4 separate regions of the Homo sapiens genome follow, and all the other regions are linked to region 1. Evidence: fine-mapped QTL for protein levels in blood plasma. A gene starts in region 1. Each other region holds a variant in brackets. All regions are shown on one strand. Distances are between the middles of the regions.

Region 1 (5,145 bases):
CCTGTGGGGCATCATCGGCTGCCCAGGTGAGTGTACTCAGGAGATGCCCCTGCTCACATGGGGCTGGCAATGCCTGGGGTGGGAGCTTGGCCTGCAGCAATGAAAGTGCCGCTCTAAGGACATCACTTGTGTCAACAACAGCTCGACAGAGTGTTATCGTGTATGATGGAATCCTAGAATCTTCCCTACTTTACAGATGAGGAAATGGAGGCAAAAGCCAATGAATTAATGAGTGAATGAATGAATGAGTGAATGAGTGAATGAATGAGTGAATGAGTGAATGAGTGAGTGAATGAATAAGTGAGTGAATGAGTGAGTGAATGAATGAATGAATGAGTGAATGAATGATTGACTGAGTGAGAGAATGAATGAGTGAGTGAATGAATGAGTGAGTGAGTGAATGAGTGAGTGAGTCAATGAGTGAGTGAGTGAGTCAATGAATGAGTGAGTGGGTCAATGAATGAATGACAATGAATCAGACTTCCCAAGAGTGGGTGCATTTCCACCATGACTGTGTGGGAAGGAGAGAACATATCATCCAGACTTGGTTTTTGTTGCTCAAAACAAATGCAAGCAAACTCTTGGGCCCACCAGAGCAGTGGCCGAAAGCCGCAGACCCTATCCATTGTGTGGGGGATTTCAGTGGGATTCTTGGGCTTTCAGGAGCCTACAAGTGGACTCGCATTTCAACACCTGTGTTCTGTAGGGTTTTCTAGATCTAAGATTCCAGGATTCTATGAAAAGTTATGATAGCCCTGCCCCCTAAAAGATTGTAAGTTTAAACAACAACAAGAAGTCACAAACTGGTGCATCCCAATCCCATGGGTTCCATTTCACAGGTAAAAGGTGTCTGGGTGAATAAACTGCTGTGCCGCTCAAAGGACCCAAAGGAAGGTTCTTTGTGGGTTGGCGTCTGCAAATATCACCAGCTGCCTGGCTAGAGTGACCAGCTAACATACCCATGTGGACCCTGGGCATGAAGGGAGGTACCAGGCCAGGGGCAGTGGCTCATGCCTGTAATCCGAGCACTTTGGGAGGCCACTCTGGGAGGATTGCTTGAGCCCAGGAGTTCAAGACCAGCCTGGGCAACATGGCGAGAACCTGCCTCTACAAATAATTTTTAAAATTAGCTGGACATAATGGCATGCACCTATAGTCCCAGCTACTTGGGAGGCTGAGGAGGGAGGATCACTTGAGCCTGGGTGATTGAGACTGCAGTGAGCCATGATGGCACCACCGCACTCCACCTTGGGTGACAGAGCAAGACCTCACCTCAAAAAAAAAAAAAAAAAGAAAGAAAGAAAGAAAGAAAGAAAGAAAGAAAAGAAAAGAGGCTGGACGCAGTGGCTCATGCCTGTAATCCTAGCACTTTAGGAGGCCGAGGTGGGTGGATTGCCTGAGCTCAGGAGTTCGAGACCAGCTTGGGGAACACAGTGAAACCCCGTCTCTACTAAAAATACAAAAAATTGGCCGTTGTGGTGGTGTGTGCCTATAATCCCAGCTACTCAGGAGGCTGAGACAGGAGAATTGCTTAAACCTGGGAGGCAAAGGTTGCAGTGAGGCAGGATCACGCCATTGCACTCCAGCCTGGGCAACAGAGCGAGACTCCATCTCAAAAAAAGAAAGAAAGAAAAGAAAAGAAACGAAGAAAAGAGGCTGGGCGTAGTGGCTCACACTTGTAATCCCAGCACTTTGGGAGGCCGAGGCAGGCAGATCACCTGAGGTCAGGAGTTCAACACCAGCCTGGCCAACGTGGTGAAACCCCATCTCTACTAAAAATACAAAAAATTAGCTGGGCATGGTGGTGGGCGCCTGTAATCCCAGCTACTCAGGAGGCTGAGGCAGGAGAATTGCTTGAACCTGGGAGGCAGAGGTAGCAGTGAGCCGAGATCACGCCATTGCACTCTAGCCTGGGCAACAGAAGTGAAACTCTGTCTAAAAAAAAAAAGAAAAGGAAAGAAAGAAAGGTGGCCCTGTTAATGTTTATGCCAAGACAGCAGGCATGACCTGGAAGTGTCCGAAGCCACAGGGCATCTTGCTTCCGGGGAGGATGAATGAATCAAATCGCACCTATTTTAAGGCAAGCAAGGACTCCATGACTTCAGGAGCCCTGGTGGGTGGACAGAAGCTCCCTGCTCCCCTGGCCTGTCTACCCAGCAGCGCTTTGGCCAGTCCCATTCCTGTACTTCTGAGCCTGCCTGCCAGTCCCTCCTCACATGCACACCATGGCTTTGTGCCTGGTATTGAGTGTCCCGGAGCCCCAAACCACACGGTCAACCCCATGAAAGAAACAGGGACTCTGCTCTCATCCACTCGCCCCCGCCTCCCGCGTAATCCCCTGGTGCTCACGCAGCCCCACCGTACAGTTTTTCTAGCTCCCTGGCAGACTTGTGCTCCTGTTTGCCAGATCAAAGCCCAGTGACCTGAGTGGCCTGTCCCCAGCAGAGGCCACTAATCCCTGTGGACCCACCCTGTTGGGAAAGGCATGGGTTGAACTTTAACCATTAGGCTCAGGGGTTGGGATGAGTTTCTACAAAAAGAGGTGGGTACACGCCAGTCCACAGTGGTCCTGATCAAAGTGAGAACAGACAGCAGGGAACATCACCCTCTTCAGACTGGAGTCAGTGGGAACAGACCCAAGATGTTGGGGAGGAACACTTGGAAGACCTCAGCTTTCTCCTTCTTGGTTGAGCAGATGTGGGCCCCTCTCTGGAGTCGTTCGATGAGGCCAGGGCGATGGTGTTCTCAGCGTTCCTGTGCATGGCAAACCAGCAATAACACTTGTAAGTAGAGCCTCAAATTTCCTAAGATGCGACTGGATCCTTGTCTTAGCTGATGGGGTCTTTCGAGAGGAGAGAGGAGAGACCGTCCCGAGCCAGATGGGTTCAGATTTCCACTCCGTTTTTTTTTTTTTTTTTTTAAGATGGCGTCTCGCTCTGTGGCCCAGGCTGGAGTACAGTGGCGTGATCTCAGCTCACCACAACCTCCACTTCCCGGGTTCAAGCGATTCTCCTGCCTCAGCTTCCTGAGTAGCTGGGACTATAGGTGCATGCCACCACTCCTGGCTAATTTTTCGTATTTTTAGTAGAGACAGGGTTTCACTGTGTTAGCCAGGTTGGTCTCGAACTCCTAACCTCGCGATCCGCCTGTCTCAGCCTCCCAAAGTGCTGGGATTGCAGGCATCAGCCACGGCGCCCGGCCCTCTTTTTTCTTTTTTTGATGAAGTTTTGCTCTTTTGCCCAGGCTAGAGTGCAATGGCATGATCTCGGCTCACTGCAACCTCTGCCCTCCAGGTTCAAGTGATTCTCCTGCCTCAGCCTCCAAAGTAACTGGGACTACAGGCACCCGCCACTGCACCCAGCTAATTTTTTGTATTTTGGTAGAGATGGGGTTTCACCATGTTGGCCAGGCTGGTCTCGAACTCCTGACCTCAGGTGATCCACCCACCTTGGCCTCCCAAAGTGCTAGGATTACAGGCGTGAGCCACCGCGCCTGGCCACACTCCGTTTCTCTTGTATTTGGTGACCTTGGGTGAATCATTTAGCCTCCGTTTCAGGGGTCCTGGGGAGGGCAAGATGCTGGGAGCAGGCGGGTAGTCCGTGTTCGCACGGGACACACTGGCACGACTCACCATCCAGACCCGGCGGAATGGGCTGCACTAACCAGTCACGATCGCTCCTAAACTCTTCGGCAGAGAACGCTTTCAAGCAAACCTGTAACAAATAAACCACTCAGCCAGCTCTGCCAAGAAACTGCCCCGTGCCAGCCCCTCCTGGCTTCATGGTCAGTGCCTTGTGACCTTGAACGAGGCCCTTCCTCTTTCTGGGTCTCAGGTGCTTCCTCCGTAGAATGAGAGCCTGCTTTGGCAGCTGCCAAGTTCTCTTCTAACTGAAATCTTCCATGCATTCCATGTTTGGGCCATTGAAAGAGCATGGGCTTAGGAGCCAGACCCCAGGCATGCAGTCCGACTGACGCTTGCTGAGGTGGAGCCTCGGCAGGTCTTCACCCCCAAGCCTCTGTGTCCTTATCTCGAGATGGGGGTGGCCAGACTTTCTCTCCAGGGCCATGGAAGGATGACACGATGCGTGTAGAAAGCCTGGCCCACCCCAGACTCTGAGTGAGCTACACTCATTCCTCCTGTTGGGGTCCACACCTGTGGACTGGAGTGCAGTGGTGCGATCTCGGCTCACTGCAGCCTCTGCCTCCTGGGTTCAAGCGATCCTCTTGACTCAGCCTCCCAAGTAGCTGGGACTACAGGCGTGTGCCACCACGCCCAACTAATTTCTGTATTTTTAGTAGAGATAGGATTTCGCCATGTTGGCCAGGCTGGTCTCAAACTCCCGACCTCAGGTGGTCTACCTGCCTCGGCCTCCTAAAGTGCTGGGATTACAGGCGTGAGCCACTGCACCCACCCCCCTTTTTTATTCTTAGTACGACCGTCAAGAGCGCTAGCCTGCCTAGATTGGAATCTTGGCCCCACTGCTCTATGGCTGTTGCCCCTCTGTGACTTTCCTTTATTTTTTGAGACTAATTTCTGTCTTGTTGCCCAGGCTGGAGCGCAGTGGTGCGATCTCCAGCTCACCGCAACCCCCACCTCCCAGGTTCAAGCAATTCTCCTGCCTCAGCCTCCCGAGTAGCTGGAATTACAGGCATGCGCCACCACATCCGGCTAATTTTGTATTTTTAGTAGATACAGGGATTCTCCATGTTGCTCAGGGTGGTCTTGAACTCCCAGCCTCAGGTGATCTGCCCGCCTCAGCCTCCCAAAGTGCTGGGATTGCAGGCGTGAGCCACCACGCCCAGCTGTCCCCTCTGTGACTTTCTTAACTTCCCCCAGCCTTGGTTTTGTCGTCTGTAACAGGGGGTTGATAATGGTGCTTACGGCACAGTGTCGTTGGGAGAAGGGTCCGAGGTGGGGCCTGCAAAGGCTGGGGACAGCACATGGCTCCAGGAAGCCCTTGCTAGACGCCAGCTGCTGCTGTTGCTAACACAGGCAGCGGTGGGTGCCCTGTGTCTATTTAAGCATTTCCCTGTCAGTGGGCAGCAGGTAGCATTCCATTTCTTACTGTGGCAACATGTCCTCTTACATCGTGTGCTAGAGAGAGTCATATTCTGTATCGGCACCTAAATCCATTTACACCATGG
Region 2 (5,145 bases), 43 kb after region 1:
CAGCCCAAGGCAGAAAGCTTAATTGGCAAGAAACCTACCCGCAGTGGCATGGCTGGAGCCTGCCACTCCCCTGACTGATTCCTGCAGCCTTGGGGAGGGAAGGAAGAGCCCGCACCTCGGAACGGGCCAGGCCTCAGTGGCCCTGACTGGCAACGTGGCTTTGGGCAAGTTTTTTATATCTGTCTGTCTATCTTCATCAGTAAACTAGAAATACTTCTCAAAGGGTTGTTCTGAAGATTTGAAGTAGTTGCTCAGAAAGTGACTGGCACATCTGTGCCCTGGGGATGTGTGGCAGGCAGGAGGAGACGGACGTCTCACTGCACACCCGCCTGTTACCCACGTGCACCAGACTGATGTCTCACTGCACACCCGCCTGTTACCCACATGCACAAGCAGTCTGCTCCTTCACAGCCCAGCTAGAGCGTGCAATGGGATGTCAACCCAGCTAGACCATGCAGTGAGATATTACTTGGCAATCAGAAAGGACACAGCTCTAACTCATGCTGCGGTGTGGGTGAGCCTCAAAAGCGCCGTGCTGAGTGAGAGACACAAGACACAAATGTTCCACATGTTACATGACTCAGTTCCTATGAAACCCACAGAGACAGAAGCAGCAGGGCGGGGGTGGGGACCATAGCTAAAAAGTACCAAGCTTCCCCCTTGAGGTGGAAGTTCTAAAATTGACTTGGGATGGCTGCACAACTGTGAATATACCCAAAACCATAGAACTGTACCCTTCAATTTTTATTTACTTTTTTTGTTTTTTGTTTTTTGTTTTCTTTTTGAGATGGAGTTTCACTCTTGTTGCCCAGGCTGGAGTGCAATGGCATGAGCTCAGCTCACTGCAACCTCTGCCTCCCGGGTTTAAGTGATTCTCCTGCCTCAGCCTCCCGAGTAGCTGGGATTACAGGCATGCGCCACCACGCCTGGCTAATTTTGTATTTTTAGTAGAGACATGGTTTCGCCATGTTGGTCAGGCTGGTCTCGAACTCCTGACCTCAGGTGATCCATCCGCCTCGGCCTCCCAAAGTGCTGGGATTACAGGCGTGAGCCACCGTGCCCAGCCTATTTACTTATTTTAAGAAAGGATCTCACTCCGTCACCGAGGCTAGAGTGCAGTGGTATGATCACAGCTCACTGCAGCCTCAACCTCCGGGGCTCAAGCCATCCTCCCACCTCAGCCTCCCAACTACCTGGGACCACAGGCGTGCACCACTGCACCTGGCTAGTTTTTGTATTTTTTGTAGAGTCAGGGTCTCGTTATGTTGCTTAGGCTGGTCTCAAACTCCTGGCCTCAAGCAGTCCTCCCACATCGGCCTCCCAAAGTGCTGGGATTACAGACATGATCCATTGCGCCCAACCAGGCTGTACACTTTAGATGGGAGAGTTGCATGGTATGTGAATTCTATCACAATAATGCTGTGGGTTTTGCTGCTGCTGCTGTTGTTTGAGACAGAGTCTCTCTCTCTGTTGCCCAGGCTGGAGTGCAATGGTGCCATCTCGGCTCACTGCAACCTCTGCATCCTGTGCCAAAGCAGTTCCTGTGTCTCAGTCTCCCGAGCAGCTGCGATGACAGGCACCTGCCACCATGCCTGGCTAATTTTTGTATTTTTAGTAGAGATGGGGTTTCGCCATGTTGGTCAGGCTGGTCTTGAACTCCTGACTTCAGGTGATCTGCCTGCCTTGGCCTCCCAAAATGCTGCGATTACAGGCATGAGCCACTGTGCCCAGCCTATAATGCTGTTTTTTTTTTTTTAATTAACTGGATAATTATAAACGTGAACATGCGTGCATAGAACTGATGCATGTGTCTGCCAGTGTGGACACTCCCGGGCTTCCTTCTGGTAGCTCAGCCACCTCTCTTGACCCTGACCCTCACTGCTTGATGTTAGGAGACAAGCCCAAGGCATCTGGGTTGCCAGCTTCCACCTTGGAAGGCCAGGGCCCAGCAAAGTCAAGGTGATGTGATGTGGCTGAGCAGGGAGGCCATCTTCCTTGCAGACAGGGACTCTGTCACTTTGGACTGGACTCTTGTCCCACAGTGCTGGCCAGGGGCAGGTGCAGAGCTATGCTTGGTTGGCATGGGACGCTGATGAGGGCTGTGTTGCGGCCAGGCCCAACCACCGTGAGCTGAGATCATGCCACGGCACTCCAGCCTGGAAGACAGAGTGAGACTCTGCCTCAAAAAAAATAAAAAAAATAAAAAGTTATAAATAGAACTACCCTATGATTCAGCAATCACACACTTCTGGGTATATATCCAAAAGAGCTGGCTGGGCACAGTGGCTTATGCCTGTAATCCCAATATTTTGAGAAGCCAAGGCAGGAGGATCGCTTGAGCCCAGGAGTTGGAGAACAGCTTGGGCAAGATGGCAAGACCCCCTGGCTACAAACAATTAATTTTAAACCCTGGTGTGGTGTCCTAGCTACTTGGGAAACTGAGGCGGGGGGATCGCTTGAGCCCAGGAATTAGAGCCTGCAGTGAGCTATGATGGCATCATTGCACTCCTGCCTGGGTGACAAAGTAAGACCCTGACTCTTTTTGTTTTTTGGCTGTGAGTGTATTCAATGCAAAATAATCCTCTCTGATTTTACTGAGGTAGCTGGCCATGTCCACGACCAAATCTGCCTTTAAACTGGAATTCGGTTGCTGACCCAGCCCGAGCCTCGGCTATCTTGTCGGCACCAGGGGCACAGCACTCCGTCTGTAGGT[A/G]TGTCTGTCAGCTTCCCCTCTTGTGAGTCTTGCAGGTCGCCCACCCTCCAGACCTTTAGGCCGAGGCCTGCCAGTCCCTGGACGGCTGCAGCATAGGGTGGCAGGCACAGTTTCCAGGGACAGATGAAGGTAATCACGGAGATACTGGATGCCCTCATTGGTAAGGTAGCAGTAGAAATGTCTCCAGGCAAGCCGGGCGTGGTGGCTCACGCCTGTAATCCCAACACTTTGGGAGGCCGAGGTGGGCAGATCACGAGGTCAGGAGATCGAGACCATCCTGACTAATATGGTGAAACCCCGTCTCTACTAAAAATATAAAAAATTAGCTGGTCGCGATGGCGTGAAGATGTAGTCCCAGCTACTAGGGAGGCTGAGGCAGGAGGATCGCTGGAACCCAGGAAGCAGAGGCTGCAGTGAGCTGAGATCGCACCACTGCACTCCAGCCTGGAGACTCTGTCTGAAAAAAAAAAGAAAGAAAGAAAGAAAGAAAGGAAGAAAGAAAGAAATGTCTCTAGGCAAACTGTTCCTTCAGGCAGCCTCGGGGCTTGAGAGACTGCATGGCCTTCGTGACATGAAGGTTGGGCACATTCTTGTCTGCCATCTCCGGGTGCTTAGGCATGTGGACATCCTTCTTGGCCACCATGACTCCCTCCTTAAAAAGGAGCCCATAGGCCGGGCACAGTGGCTCACCCCAGCACTTTGGGAGGCCAAGGCGGGTGGATCATCCGAGGTCAGGAGTTCAAGACCAGCCTGGCTAACATGGTGAGACCCTGTCTCTACTAAAAATACAAAAATTAGCTGGGCGTGGTGGCAGGCGCTGGAGGCTGAGGCAGGAGAATCGCTTGAACCTGGGAGGCAGAGGTTGCGGTGAGCCAAGATCACACCATTGCACTCCAGCCTGGGCAACAAGAGCAAAACTCCATCTCGAAAAAAAAAAAAAAAAGGTTAAGATGGTAAATTTTATGTTATGTATATTTTATCACAATAAAAAGTAATATTTTTTGCAGCCAAGGTATGCTAAAAGAAATGGCTTTATTTTTATTTTTATTATTAATTAATTTATTATTATTATTATTATTATTATTATTATTATTATTATTATTATTTGAGACAGAGTCTCACTCTGTTGCCCAGGCTGGAGTGCAGTGGCATGATCTCGGCTCACTGCAACCTCTGCCTCCTGGGCTCAAGCGATTCTCCTGCCTCAGCCTCCTGAGTAGCTGGGACTACAGGCGCCCACCACCACATCTGGATAATTTTTGTATTTTTAGTAGAGACAGGGTTTCACCACGTTGACCAGGCTGGTCTCGAACTCCTGACCTCAAGTGATGCACCCGCCTCGGCCTCCCAAAGTGCTGAGATTACAGGGGTGAGCTACTGCGCCCCAAGAAATGACTTCAAAAGGAAAAATGTGAGCACCAACGTAAGCTGGTGTAATGTAACGTAATTCCCACCAATGTAAGTTGGCAGGAATCCTTGCTCTGTATAGAAGGGTCACATTTTCTCATCACTGCTTGCAAGTGTGACAGCAGTGGCCTCATGGCCTTATCTGGGGGAAAGCACTTCCTTCCAAGCACCATGAAGGCCTCACGTGCTGAGACAAGATGGAAGCTCCTAGTCTCCCCTGAGGACTGACACGTCCTGTGCTTCTCGGTCTCTCAGGACGCGCGGGCGGCCATGCGCCCCTTCGACCCCTCCACTCTGCTGCCCACCTGCTGGGATTACTGGACCTACGCGGGCTCGCTCACCACCCCGCCGCTGACCGAGTCGGTCACCTGGATCATCCAGAAGGAGCCCGTTGAAGTGGCCCCAAGCCAGGTGAGCCGTGCCCGTAACTGGCACGATGGCGCTTCATGGAAGGCGTCCCTCTTGCTTGGCAGCGTCACTAAGATGCTGCATGAGAGCGTTGTGGAGTTATATATATTCTTTCATGCATTTGGGGCATTCTTACACAAGAAGAAAATTCCAACTGAAGTAGGAGCTTGTTGAGATTGGACAGCGGTTCCAGTGATCACAGCAAGCATGTCCTGAGCAACGCCCTAATCTATCACACACAGACACACGAGGCATCCATGGGAGTTGTCCCAGGGTCATGGGTCTGCATGGTTTTTGTTTTCTTCCTTTTTCTTTTCTTTCCTTTTTTTTTTTTGAGACAGAGTCTCGTTCTATCGCCCAGGCTGGAGTGCAGTGGTGCGATCTCGGCTCACTACAACCTCCACCTCCTGGGTTCAAGCGATTCTCCTGCCTCAGCCTCCCAAATAGCTGGGATTACAGGCACCCATCACCACGCCTGGCTAATTTTTGTATTTTTAGTAGAGACGGAGTTTCACCATGTTGGCCAGGCTGGTCTTGAACTCTTGACCTCAGGTGATCTGCCCACCTTGGCCTCCCAAAGCGCTGGGATTCCAGGCATAAGCCACCGAGCCCGGCCT
Region 3 (5,145 bases), 32 kb after region 1:
CACCCTCAGTCACCCATCAATGCACTTTGATGCTGCTGGGGCTGGTCGGCTGCAAACCCCCTTTCCCCCACAGACACAGGCCGAGGCAGAAGCGAGCACAGAGCTCACCGTGCTCCCATTTTGTGGTTCTGTAAGTTCCTTAGATTGTGTTTTGGAGGCCAGGCACGGTGGCTCACGCCTGTGTTTTGTTTTTGAGACAGAGTCTCACTCTGTCGCCCAGGCTGAAGTGCATTGGCGCAATCTCGGCTCACTGCAACCTCCACCCGCCAGGTTCAAGCGATTCTCCTGCCTCAGCCTCCCAAGTAGCTGGGATTACAGGCACCCACCAATACACCTGGCTAATTTTGTGTATTTTTAGTAGAGATGAGGTTTTATCATGTTGGCCAGGCTGGTTTCAAACACCTGACCTCAAGTGATACACCCGCCTTGGCCTCCCAAAGTGCTAGGATTACAGGCGTGAGCCACTGTGCCTGGCCTAACAAAGTGATTTTATGTGCTTATTGTGGGAAGGACTCTTTCTGTGTATTTTTAAAAATTGAGATGTAATTCATCTGTGTATGTTTAAGGAGAATAGAAGATTTGCTCATAATGGTAGAATTTTAAAACTAGATATGACTCTGAGGTTGCTCCAGACCAACACTGAGATTTTGAGTGAAGAGGGGCAGTGAGCAGCTCTGTGGCTTGGTCCAGCACTTGCCTAGCCCCTGACTGGACTAAAGCCAAATCCATTTTCCATTTTCCAGTTTACACCTTGGTGCCTCCAACTATGAGTACTTTTTTTTTTGAGACTGATTCTCACTCCGTCGCCCAGTCTGGAGTACAGTGGCACGTTCTCAGCTCACTGCAACCTCCGCCTCCCAGGTTCGAGCAATTCTCCTGCCTCAGCCTCCCGAGTAGCTGGGATTACAGGCACCCGCCACCACACCCAGCTAATTTTTGTATTTTCAGTAGAGATGGGTTACACCACGTTGGCCAGGCTGGTCTCTAACTCCTGACCTCAAGTGATCCGCCCGCCTCGGCCTCCCAAAGCGCTAGGAGTACAGGTGTGAGCCACCACGCCCAGCCCAAGTACTTCTGGTGTCGGGAAACCACCAGGAGTCAGCAGTGTCAAGCTCCCCAAGGCATTCATCACGCGCTCAGTGCTTTCCTGGCTTTTGCCACAGCGGGAGGTGACATGAGGCTCCTCCACAGCTATGGGAGGCACTCGGGCCACCCTGAATTCGGGATCAGTGCTCCAGTTCTGCTGGCGCCTTCCAGCCTTGCCCAGCCATCCCAGGAGCACGCTGTGCTGCTTTCAGTGAAAACGTGTGGAACGGGTACCCCATTTGTAGCAGCTGCTGATGGAAATCTGTTAGTGACAAAGTACTTAGACACAGGAGAAGCCACCCACATCCGAACCCCTGGGGAGCTCGTTAAAAGGCAGACTCCCAGCACTACCTGGACGTGGGAATGGCAGCCATGACTCTGGGGGCCAGAGCCAGAGGCCTCAGCGAGCGATGCTTATGGCTGAGCCCCACATGTCAGGAGAAGCAAGCTCCTGGGAGGCTGCACCTGGCACTGTGCCATGGAGAGGGGCACCCCGAGGCCTGCAGGTAGAGAGTGCTGACTCCAAGGTGAGTGTTTAGGGTGACTTAGGAAGGAAGGAGTGTTCCAATAAAAGCTGGCCCTGTGGTGGGCCTAGATTAAGCAGGGACTGCCAGAGATCAGGACTGATGCTACAGCTCAGGGTCTTCTTATTTAAAGACCTTGCTCACCCAGGAGCGGTGGCTCACACCTGTCATCCCAGCGCTTTGGGAGGCAGAGGCGGGTGGATCACCTGAGATCAGGAGTTTGAGACCAGCCTGGCTAACATGGTGAAACCCCGTCTCTACTTAAAATACAAAAATTGGCTTGGCCTGGTGGCACATGCCTGTAATCCCAGCTACTCAGGAGGCTGGGGCAGGAGAATCACTAGAACCCAGAGGTGGAGGTTGCAGTGAGCTGAGATCATGCCATTGTACTCCAGCCTGGGCAATAGAGTAAGATTCTGTCTTAAAATAAAACAAAACAAGACAAAACAAAAACTTTGCTCATTGTGTGTTATTTTATAATGTTATTTGGTGATAGGATTTAAGCTGCTTTTAAAAAATATTTGGAAGACACCTTTTTTTTTAATTAAAGTCTGGAAATCTTATAGGACAGGCAGGCATCACAGAAACGTTCTTTACGGATTTCTGCCTGCAGGGAGTTGAGGCCCTCACCACCACCCAGTGGCAGCACTGGGACCCTGCCTTCATTCCACATTTACTGTGAACCTCTGGGCAGGCGCTGGGCTGGGGGGGGGCAGAGTGAATGGGACAGACAGAGCCCACCTTTCACGGAGCCCACCTTTGGCTTGTCACTTCAACCATACAGCAACCCCTTGCGAGTGAACTCATATAACCCTAATGTAGACAATGCCTCAGGTAACACCACAGCTCAACAAACAGACAAAATGACACACACGTCTCACTGCCTTTATTTCCAGGAATTAGTGGTGGGCCCTTGGAAAACCACTACAGACTGAAGCAATTTCACTTCCACTGGGGAGCAGTGAACGAGGGGGGCTCAGAGCACACAGTGGACGGCCACGCGTACCCCGCAGAGGTTTGTAGACGTGGCCTAACAGCACATATCTGCACACTTTCCATGTCTCCGGCTCTATGGTGGGGGGTGAACAAGCCATGCGC[G/A]CCGCTCAGATGTGAAGGATTTCCTGGGGCCTGGGACTGTCAGTGCTCAAACCAGAACCGTCGGCCGCCCCACCCGTTTAGTCACACCTCTCCTACGAGGAAGGCGCTGTAAGTTCTCTCTCATTTAACGGAAGAAGAGACTGAGGTTCTGAATGGTTACGGAACTTGCCAAAGCCAGACAGCCGGGATGCAAAGTCAGAGCTTGAGCTCTTTGCCGCACTTCACTCAGCTGTGTGCTTGCAGCTGTAGGGACTAGCAAATCCACAAGGCCCTCTGCTGAGAAGCTGAACATCTTTGCAATAGAGATCATCTTCTTTTGTTTGTTTGTTTGTTTGTTTTTTGGTTTTTGGTTTTTTTTTTTTGAAACAGGGTTCACTCTGTCACCCAGACTGGAGTGCATTGGTGCAATCTTGGCTCACCACAACCTCCGTCTCCCAGGCTCAAGCGATTCTCCTGCCTCAGCCTCCCGAGTAGCTGGGATTACAGGTGCGTGCCACCAGGCCCTGCTAATTTTTGTATTTTTAGTAGAGATGGGGTTTCGCCATGTTGGCCAGGCTGGTCTCGAACTCCTGACCTCAAGTGATCCACCCACCTCAGCCTCCCAAAGTGCTAGGATAACAGGCGTGAGCCACCGTACCCGGCTAAGATCATCTTAAAGCAGTCTTATTTTCAACCTTCCAAAGTGGGAGTCAGTAGAGAAAATCAGTGCATATCAATGTTGGGAATTGGTTTTTGTAGTTTTTTTGGGGTGATAAGTGATGCCTTATAGATTTCCCCAAATATTTCATTATGAAATTTTTGCAACATACGAAAAAATGAAAAGAAATGAACGAGAAGAATCTACGAGTTTGATGTCTCAGTCCTGTGATGATCATTTTTGCCATATTCACTTTATCACACCTCTGCTCACCCACTCACCTAACTTTTTGATGCTTTTTCAAGCTGAGGACTCTTTCTGTTTTTTGAACTTGTTGTTGTTATGAAAGTAATGCTGCAGTTAATGTGGAACTAGAGTCCACCCAAACCAAAAAATGAAAATTGCTTGTAATCTCACACCCAGAGGTGACCTCCGGACATTTTATAAATAGGGAGTGATATCTATTGTCATCATCATACACATATTTATAAATTGTTCCAAGAATGAGCACAACAATGGCTTCTGTGTGCTTCCTTTCATTTAACAACATGACTTTTATTTTAGTATCTCTATCTGCAACTTTGTTTTTGATGAACAGATATTTTATTTATTTATTTATCTGTTTTTGAGACTGAGTATCACTCTGTTGCCTAGGCTGGAGTGCAGTGGCGCTATCTCACGATCTTGGCTCACTGCAACCTCTGCTGCCCAGGTTCAAGTGATTCTCCTGCCTCAGCCTTCTGAGTAGCTGGGATTACAGGCACCTGCCACTGCGCCTGGCTAGTTTTTGTAGTTTTAGTAGGGACGGGGTTTCACCATCTTGGCCAGGCTGGTCTTGAACTCCTGACCTCGTGATCCACCCACCTCGGCCTCCCAGAGTGCTGAGATTATAGGCGTGAGCCACCGCGCCCAGCCGAGGCCTGAGTTTCTTCTGGTAATTCTTGTCCAAGGATAACTAGGAAGTAGAAAATAATGAAACCACCCATTTCTATTGGATGAGGTTAACATGATCCTCTCCTTTCCCCCCCCACCAGGAAGACTGAGGCTGTTCCTTCCTGTGGCTTCGTCAAGGGCCTGGGAGCTCAGAGGTGCTGCTGGTGCTGGGATCTTACTCATCTGGCTGCAACAACTTAGTTCTTTTTTTTTTTTTTTGTGAGATGGAGTCTCGCTCTGTCACCCAGGCTGGAGTGCAGTGGCACAATCTCAGCTCACTGCAAGCTCTACCTCCTGGGTTCACACCATTCTCCTGCCTCAGCCTCCTGAGTACCTGGGACTACAGGCTCCCGCCACCACGCCCAGCTAATTTTTTTTTTTTGTATTTTTAGTAGAGACAGGATTTCAGCATGTTAGCCAGCATGGTCTCGATCTCCTGACCTCGTGATCCACCCGCCTCCGCCTCCCAAAGTGCTGGGATTACAGGTGTGAGCCACCGCGCCTGGCCATTTCATTATGATTAAGTGGACACATAGGTCAGCCATTCAGAAGGGGAAGTGACTGTCTTATTTCTTGCTGATCAATTTAAGTTCTCTTTCCATTGTGTTTCAGCTGCATTTAGTTCACTGGAATTCTGTGAAATACCAAAATTACAAGGAAGCTGTCGTGGGAGAGAATGGTTTGGCTGTGATAGGCGTGTTTTTAAAGGTAATCACTTGCTCGGGTGTAGATCTAATGAAGAAAGTGGTGATCCATCATTAGGATTGCTTTTTTTTTTTTGAGACAGGACTCGCTGTGTCACACAGGCTGGAGTGCAGTGGCACAGTCTCGGCTCATTGCAACCTGCACCTCCTGGGTTCAAGTGAT
Region 4 (5,145 bases), 78 kb after region 1:
AAAGCCAGACTCTGTAAAATGTTTGAAGAGATTTATCCGGAGTCAAATGTGAGGACCAAGGCCTGGAGGCCCTGAGGACATGTGCCCCAGGGGGTGGGCCACAGCTGGAGTTCATACCTCCTACAAGGACAGAAGTTACAGGCAGACATCAGTCAGTACATGAAAGGTATTTGTTGGTTCTGCCGAGAAAGGCGGGACAACTCCAAGGCGGGGATGGGCTTCCTGGTCACAGGTGGGTTCGAAGATTTCCTTTTTCTTTATATATATATGTGTGTGTGTGTGTGTGTGTGTGTGTGTGTGTGTGTGTGTGTGTGTGTGTGTGTGTGTATTTTTTTTTTTTTTTGAGATGCTTTTGTTACTCGGGCTGGAGTGCAGTGGTATGATCTCAGTTCACTGCAACCTCCGCCTCCTGGGTTCAAGTGATTCTCCTGCCTTAGCTTCCCGAGTAGCTGGGACTACAGGCATGCACCACCATGCCCAGCTAATTTTGTGTTTTTAGTAGAGACGGGGGTTTCACCATGTTGGTCAGGCTGGTTTCGAACTCTTGATCTCAGGTGATCCGCCCACCTTGGCTTCCCAAAGTGCTGGGATTACAGGTGTGAGCCACCGTGCCTGGCAAAAGATTTTCTGATTCACAATTGGTTGAAAGAGTTATTAGCTAAAGACCTGGTATCAATAGAAAGGAGTATCTGGGTAAGACAGGAGGTTGTGGAGACGAATATTGTGTTTTGTTTTGTTTTGTTTTGTTTTGTTTTTGTCACCCAGGCTGGAGTGCAGTGGCATGATCTCAGCTCACTGCAACCCGGTTCAAGCGATTCTCCTGCCTCAGCCTCGCAAGTAGCTGGGATTGCAGGTGCCTGCCGCCACCATGCCTGGCTAATTTTGTATTTTTAGTAGAGATGGGGTTTCTCCATGTTGGTCGGGCTGGTCTCGAACTCCTGACCTCGTGATCTGCCCACCTCAGCCTCCCAAAGTGCTGGGATTACAGGCATGAGCCACTGAGCCAGGCCAAGATCTGTGTTTGAGTGTTAGTGCTGGTCCGCTGTACCTGAATTCCAGAGGGAGGGGGTATAACAAGGCCTGTGTGACCCCCTCTTCCCATCGTGACCTGAGCTCGTTTTTCAGGTTAACTTTGGAATATCCCTTTGGCAATAGGAGGGGTCCCTTTAGTCAGTTACGGGGCTTAGAATTTTATTTTTGGTGTACGTGCTCAAACTGCAGCTGCTACAAAACCAAGGCCATGGTGACCCCGGGGCCAGTCCAGCTTTGTCCCTGTGCTCTCGAGCTGCTGGAGGCCAATGCAGGATTCTGTCCACGGCTCTCATGTGTGGCTTCAGAGCCTGAGGGTTCTTGGGGCCCTGTCTTCACCTGCTACCGTGTAGGGGCCTTGTGAGCTGAGTCAACTGGAAGAGCCCAGGGCCTCTGCAGAAGGCCTGAGCAGGGCCCGGGCACTGTCCCTGGAGCTCTGAGTCCCTCAAGCTGTGTGGCCCGGAGCCAGGCGCTTGACTTCTCTGGTCGTTTGCTTCAGAGCTGGAAGCCTGGGGTGACGTGGGTCTTTGGCAGGGGTCAGGTAGGGGAGGGGCCAGCCAGGAATCAAACATCCCTGACAGGTGAGGGGGCAGGTGAGGAGGGCAGGGCAGGAGCCCCTGGAGCACTTGTGCAGCAGCATCTGGGCCGGTGCAAGCCCTGAGATGGCTTCAGGTCCTGCTCAGAGCTAAGGGCTCCCCGTCACCAGGGATTCTTCCATCACTGCATCTGCAGAGCCCATCGGGATTGGGGAGAGGCCCTGGCCTTAGCTTGGAACAGCTGCATCCTCCTGTCGGGTGTACAGGCTGTGCACTGGTTAAGCCTGAGCGCAGAGTCTGTTCAACGAGTTCATTGTGTGGTATTTGCTTCCGCTTGCTGTTGAGTTGGACTGGCTTGGACGCTGGCCAGGAGCCCAAGTGGACTTGGTGCTTCTCTTTGACAGCCGGGATTGAAAATCCCAGTCAAGTGGCCAGAGCACGAGGGTGAGATTTAGGAGACCTGGATGTCCTCACTTTGCCGCCCAGGAACTGCTGTGTGACTTTCACCAAGTGGGACAACCTCTCTGAACTACGTTTACCCCGGCTATAAAATGGAGGTGTTGGATTGGCTGCCACAAGTGTCCTTCCACCTCCACAATACCGTGACTGGAGCGGGTTTTCACTCCTTTTTCTTGTTAGCATAACTGTTGGAGCTGTAGAGGGTTTGGAGTGGGGCGTGGGTTTCCGGACCACAGATGTGTGAGGCTCCGCACTTAGCCAGCAGTGGCAACTCCTTATCACTGGTGCCCACGGCTTCATCTGTGCCCTGAAGATACTCATGCTGCGGTGACTGGTCAGATTAATGGTGATGCTTTCATGGGGCGCCGTAAGACACGTCCGCGAGGTATTTCGCCCATGCAGCAGGAGGCAGTTGTTCCAGTCTGTTGGAAACAGGAAAGGGAGGCTCAGTCCCTGCAAAGGAACTTGCCGGAGTTCACACAGCATTTCAGCACCGGGTGGCCTGGTTTCAGAGTTTCAGAGGGAGCGGTGGCCCTTCCTGTCAGCCCTGGGGGTCTCCTGGAGTCAGGACCCTTGGGAAACCCAAATCCACCAGGACGCTTGTGTCAGGAGAACCTGACCACATGAGAAGCTGCCCTTTTCCAGTTCTCCTGCTTACCCTGGACTTGGGATGTTGGCAAATTTCAGAGCTTGCCAAATCTGCATCTTCCTGGCCTGTTTAAAATGAATGTGTCAGCCCCATTCTGGACAGCAGCTGACACCTCCTCCCCCGTGCCAGCCAGGACAGTGTGGTTGGGCGTAACTCAGCCCCGGTTAAAAATGGAAAAAAGTACAAAGACATGTGTTCAAGGGCTGGTGACAGAATTTGAAAATGTGACACCAGCCTGTTAGTAATTTGTTTTCACAGAAATCTGTTTCAACACTGAGCAGACAGGTGGGGCCAGGGCCTTGGGATCATCTCTCTGTTTGCCCAGGGACATCTGTATGTCCGGCCCAAAGGTGGGGCCTTGTGCTCTGCAGAGACTGGGCATCAAAATTGAGCCATTATAAGCAGACCATCCCGGCCAGGCG[C/T]GGTGGCTCACGCCTGTAATCCCAACACTTTGGGAGGCCAAGGTGGGCGGATCGCCTGAGGTCAGGAGTTCGAGACCAGCCCGGCCAACATGGTGAACGCTTGTCTCTACTAAAAATACAAAAATTAGGCCGGTGTGGTGGCAGGTGTCAGTAATCCCAGCTACTGAGGCAGGAGGCTGAGGCAGGAGAATCACTTGATCCCCAGAGGCGGAGGCTGCAGCTACTCGGGAGGTAGATGTGAGAGAATGGCTTGAACTCAGGAGGCGGAGGTTGCAGTGAGCCAAGATCGTACCACTGCACTCCAGCCTGGGCGACAAGAGCGAGACTTCGTCTCAAAAAAAAAAAAAATGTGAACGCTGCCTTTGCTTCCCTGCCCCGGAACTGCTTCATTTTCCTTGGGGTTTCCGGACCACTTTGACCTCTCTCTCTGGCCAGCAGTGGCAGGGAGGCAGGTGGATCTGGAGCCGGCATGGGCAGGCTTGGCATTCCAGCCCATTCTGGGGTGAGGTTGGCCTTGGGTGAGGACAGGGGTCACTGGGTCAGACACATTCATTTTCTGGAGCCCGGGGCGGTGACGTGTCCATCAGGGAAGCACGCGCCTGTGCTGGGGGCGCTCCCCAGGCCGGCAGCACCAGCCTCCCTGGGACCTTGTTCTGTGCAGATGTGTTGTCTCCATCTCCCGGACCTGCCTGATCAGAAGCTCTGGGTTTCCATCCGCCTCCCCCACCACTGCTTTTATAAGTTCCCCCGGGGGATGACACGGGAGATGGTGGGGGCTGTCTGTCGGTGGAGAAGGTGGAGGCTTGTACTCAGAGCAGGGGATATTTAGACTTGAAGGGGCCAGGGAGGAAGGTACTGGTTCTACTAAAGCCCCATGTGCACTGGGCAGCCACCAAGTTCGGGGCCCTGTGCGTACCGAGTGGATTCCGACAAAGAAGCTGTCTCAGGAGCCCCAGCCAGCTGCAGAGGGGGGCCCAAGCTCCAAGGCTGGGTGTCAGGTTTGCCAGGTGCTGGCTCCGCTAGGGGCCACAGGCTGCACTGGGCGGGACTGGGCTGGGCTGGTACCTGTGCCCGGTGTCGGGCCAGCTGTAGTTGCTGTGGTCAGCTGCCGCTCTCCGGCCCCGTGCGAACTGCTGTGCCCGGTGCACCCTGGGGGACCAGGCTGCCTGGGCTTCCTGGAACTGATGAAGCTGCCGGCCACTTCCTCTGTGCTGTCTCCAGCAGGCAGTTCTGGGTAAACAATCGTCATTTGCCTATAAAGCTGCACAGCTCACAGGCCTTGGACCATCTCTGCCCCAGCCCCAGCATTGGCCCTCTGGACAGACTCTGAAACCGTGCGCGGAACACAGCCTGTCATTACAGATGACTCCTGGAGGCAGTCCTCGGGGGCCTGGCAGGAGCACTTCTGTTTCTGTTGGGTCTGAAAATGACAGAAGGGACTGCAGGATGCCTGCCTGGGCTGGACGCCTGCCTGGGGCACTCACAGTGGCTGTGTTTGGGCTCGAAGGGGCCCGGGAGGATCATGTTCACTGGGTACTCCCACTTACAGACAGGCCAAGGTGCTGAGCCCTGCAGGACTCACTGCTGTGCCTGGCTCGGGGGCAGGTGAGGACCGGCGGCCCAGGGAGCAGCCTCTGTGGCCAACAGAGAGGATTTTCATTGTGGCTGACCCTGAACCCTATCCACGGATGCTCCTGTACCTGGTACATGTTTATTACCTGAAAGAATCAGGCATTAGTCCGTGTGGGGTGGGTTCATGGGGCCTGCGGGGTCCCCACCCAGCCGGGGCCCACAGGTCCCACCTGCTCTCCATATTGAACACACCTGTTACTGGCCCTTCCCCCACCCCTCTCCTCCAACACTGGACCCTGGGGGATCATCCCTTTGCTTGTAGCGGGATTTTATCAGGAGCTGGACAGAGTTGGGGCCAGGAGACCAAGATGCCAGCATCAGGGGAGGTGAGCAGAGCCGGCTGCCGCAGAGGTGAGCGTTCACGGGCATCAGGCAGGGAGGCACCTCAGAGAGTCATCCCCCCGAGGGGAGAGGGGTA

Alleles and levels. Positions count from the first base shown, and alleles are read on the strand shown. Strength reflects both the effect of a copy and how common the allele is.
For the plasma level of the protein whose gene starts at base 2,563 in region 1, A is the low allele of the variant in region 2 and G is the other (strong association).
For the plasma level of the protein whose gene starts at base 2,563 in region 1, G is the low allele of the variant in region 3 and A is the other (moderate association).
For the plasma level of the protein whose gene starts at base 2,563 in region 1, allele T in region 4 goes with a lower level than allele C (weak association).

The links. PIP is the chance, under the fine-mapping model, that this variant and not a neighbour inherited with it causes the effect. The UK Biobank Pharma Proteomics Project read protein levels with antibody pairs (Olink). The fine-mapping took linkage between variants from a reference panel, not from the people measured, so its PIPs are less certain.
Region 2: its variant is fine-mapped to the plasma level of the CA5A protein (UK Biobank, PIP above 0.99).
Region 3: its variant is fine-mapped to the plasma level of the CA5A protein (UK Biobank, PIP above 0.99).
Region 4: its variant is fine-mapped to the plasma level of the CA5A protein (UK Biobank, PIP above 0.99).

The regions. Positions count from the first base shown.
Region 1 is chr16:87,933,947-87,939,091 of GRCh38, reverse strand. It overlaps CA5A (carbonic anhydrase 5A), which reads left to right and starts at 2,563. Exons shown (of 7, transcript NM_001739.2): 1 at 2,563-2,783. The coding sequence starts at 2,642.
Region 2 is chr16:87,891,185-87,896,329 of GRCh38, reverse strand. It overlaps CA5A (carbonic anhydrase 5A), which reads left to right. Exons shown (of 7, transcript NM_001739.2): 6 at 4,376-4,531. Among named protein-coding and RNA genes, the nearest start is that of SLC7A5, 24 kb to the right of the region's middle. The variant A/G (reference allele first, on the strand shown) is at 2,714.
Region 3 is chr16:87,902,266-87,907,410 of GRCh38, reverse strand. It overlaps CA5A (carbonic anhydrase 5A), which reads left to right. Exons shown (of 7, transcript NM_001739.2): 3 at 2,507-2,625; 4 at 4,891-4,986. Among named protein-coding and RNA genes, the nearest start is that of CA5A, 32 kb to the left of the region's middle. The variant G/A (reference allele first, on the strand shown) is at 2,709.
Region 4 is chr16:87,855,524-87,860,668 of GRCh38, reverse strand. All of the region lies in intron 1 of SLC7A5 (solute carrier family 7 member 5), which reads left to right. Among named protein-coding and RNA genes, the nearest start is that of MIR11401, 4.2 kb to the right of the region's middle. RefSeq lists an enhancer at 1-164 and a silencer at 4,546-4,734. The variant C/T (reference allele first, on the strand shown) is at 3,096.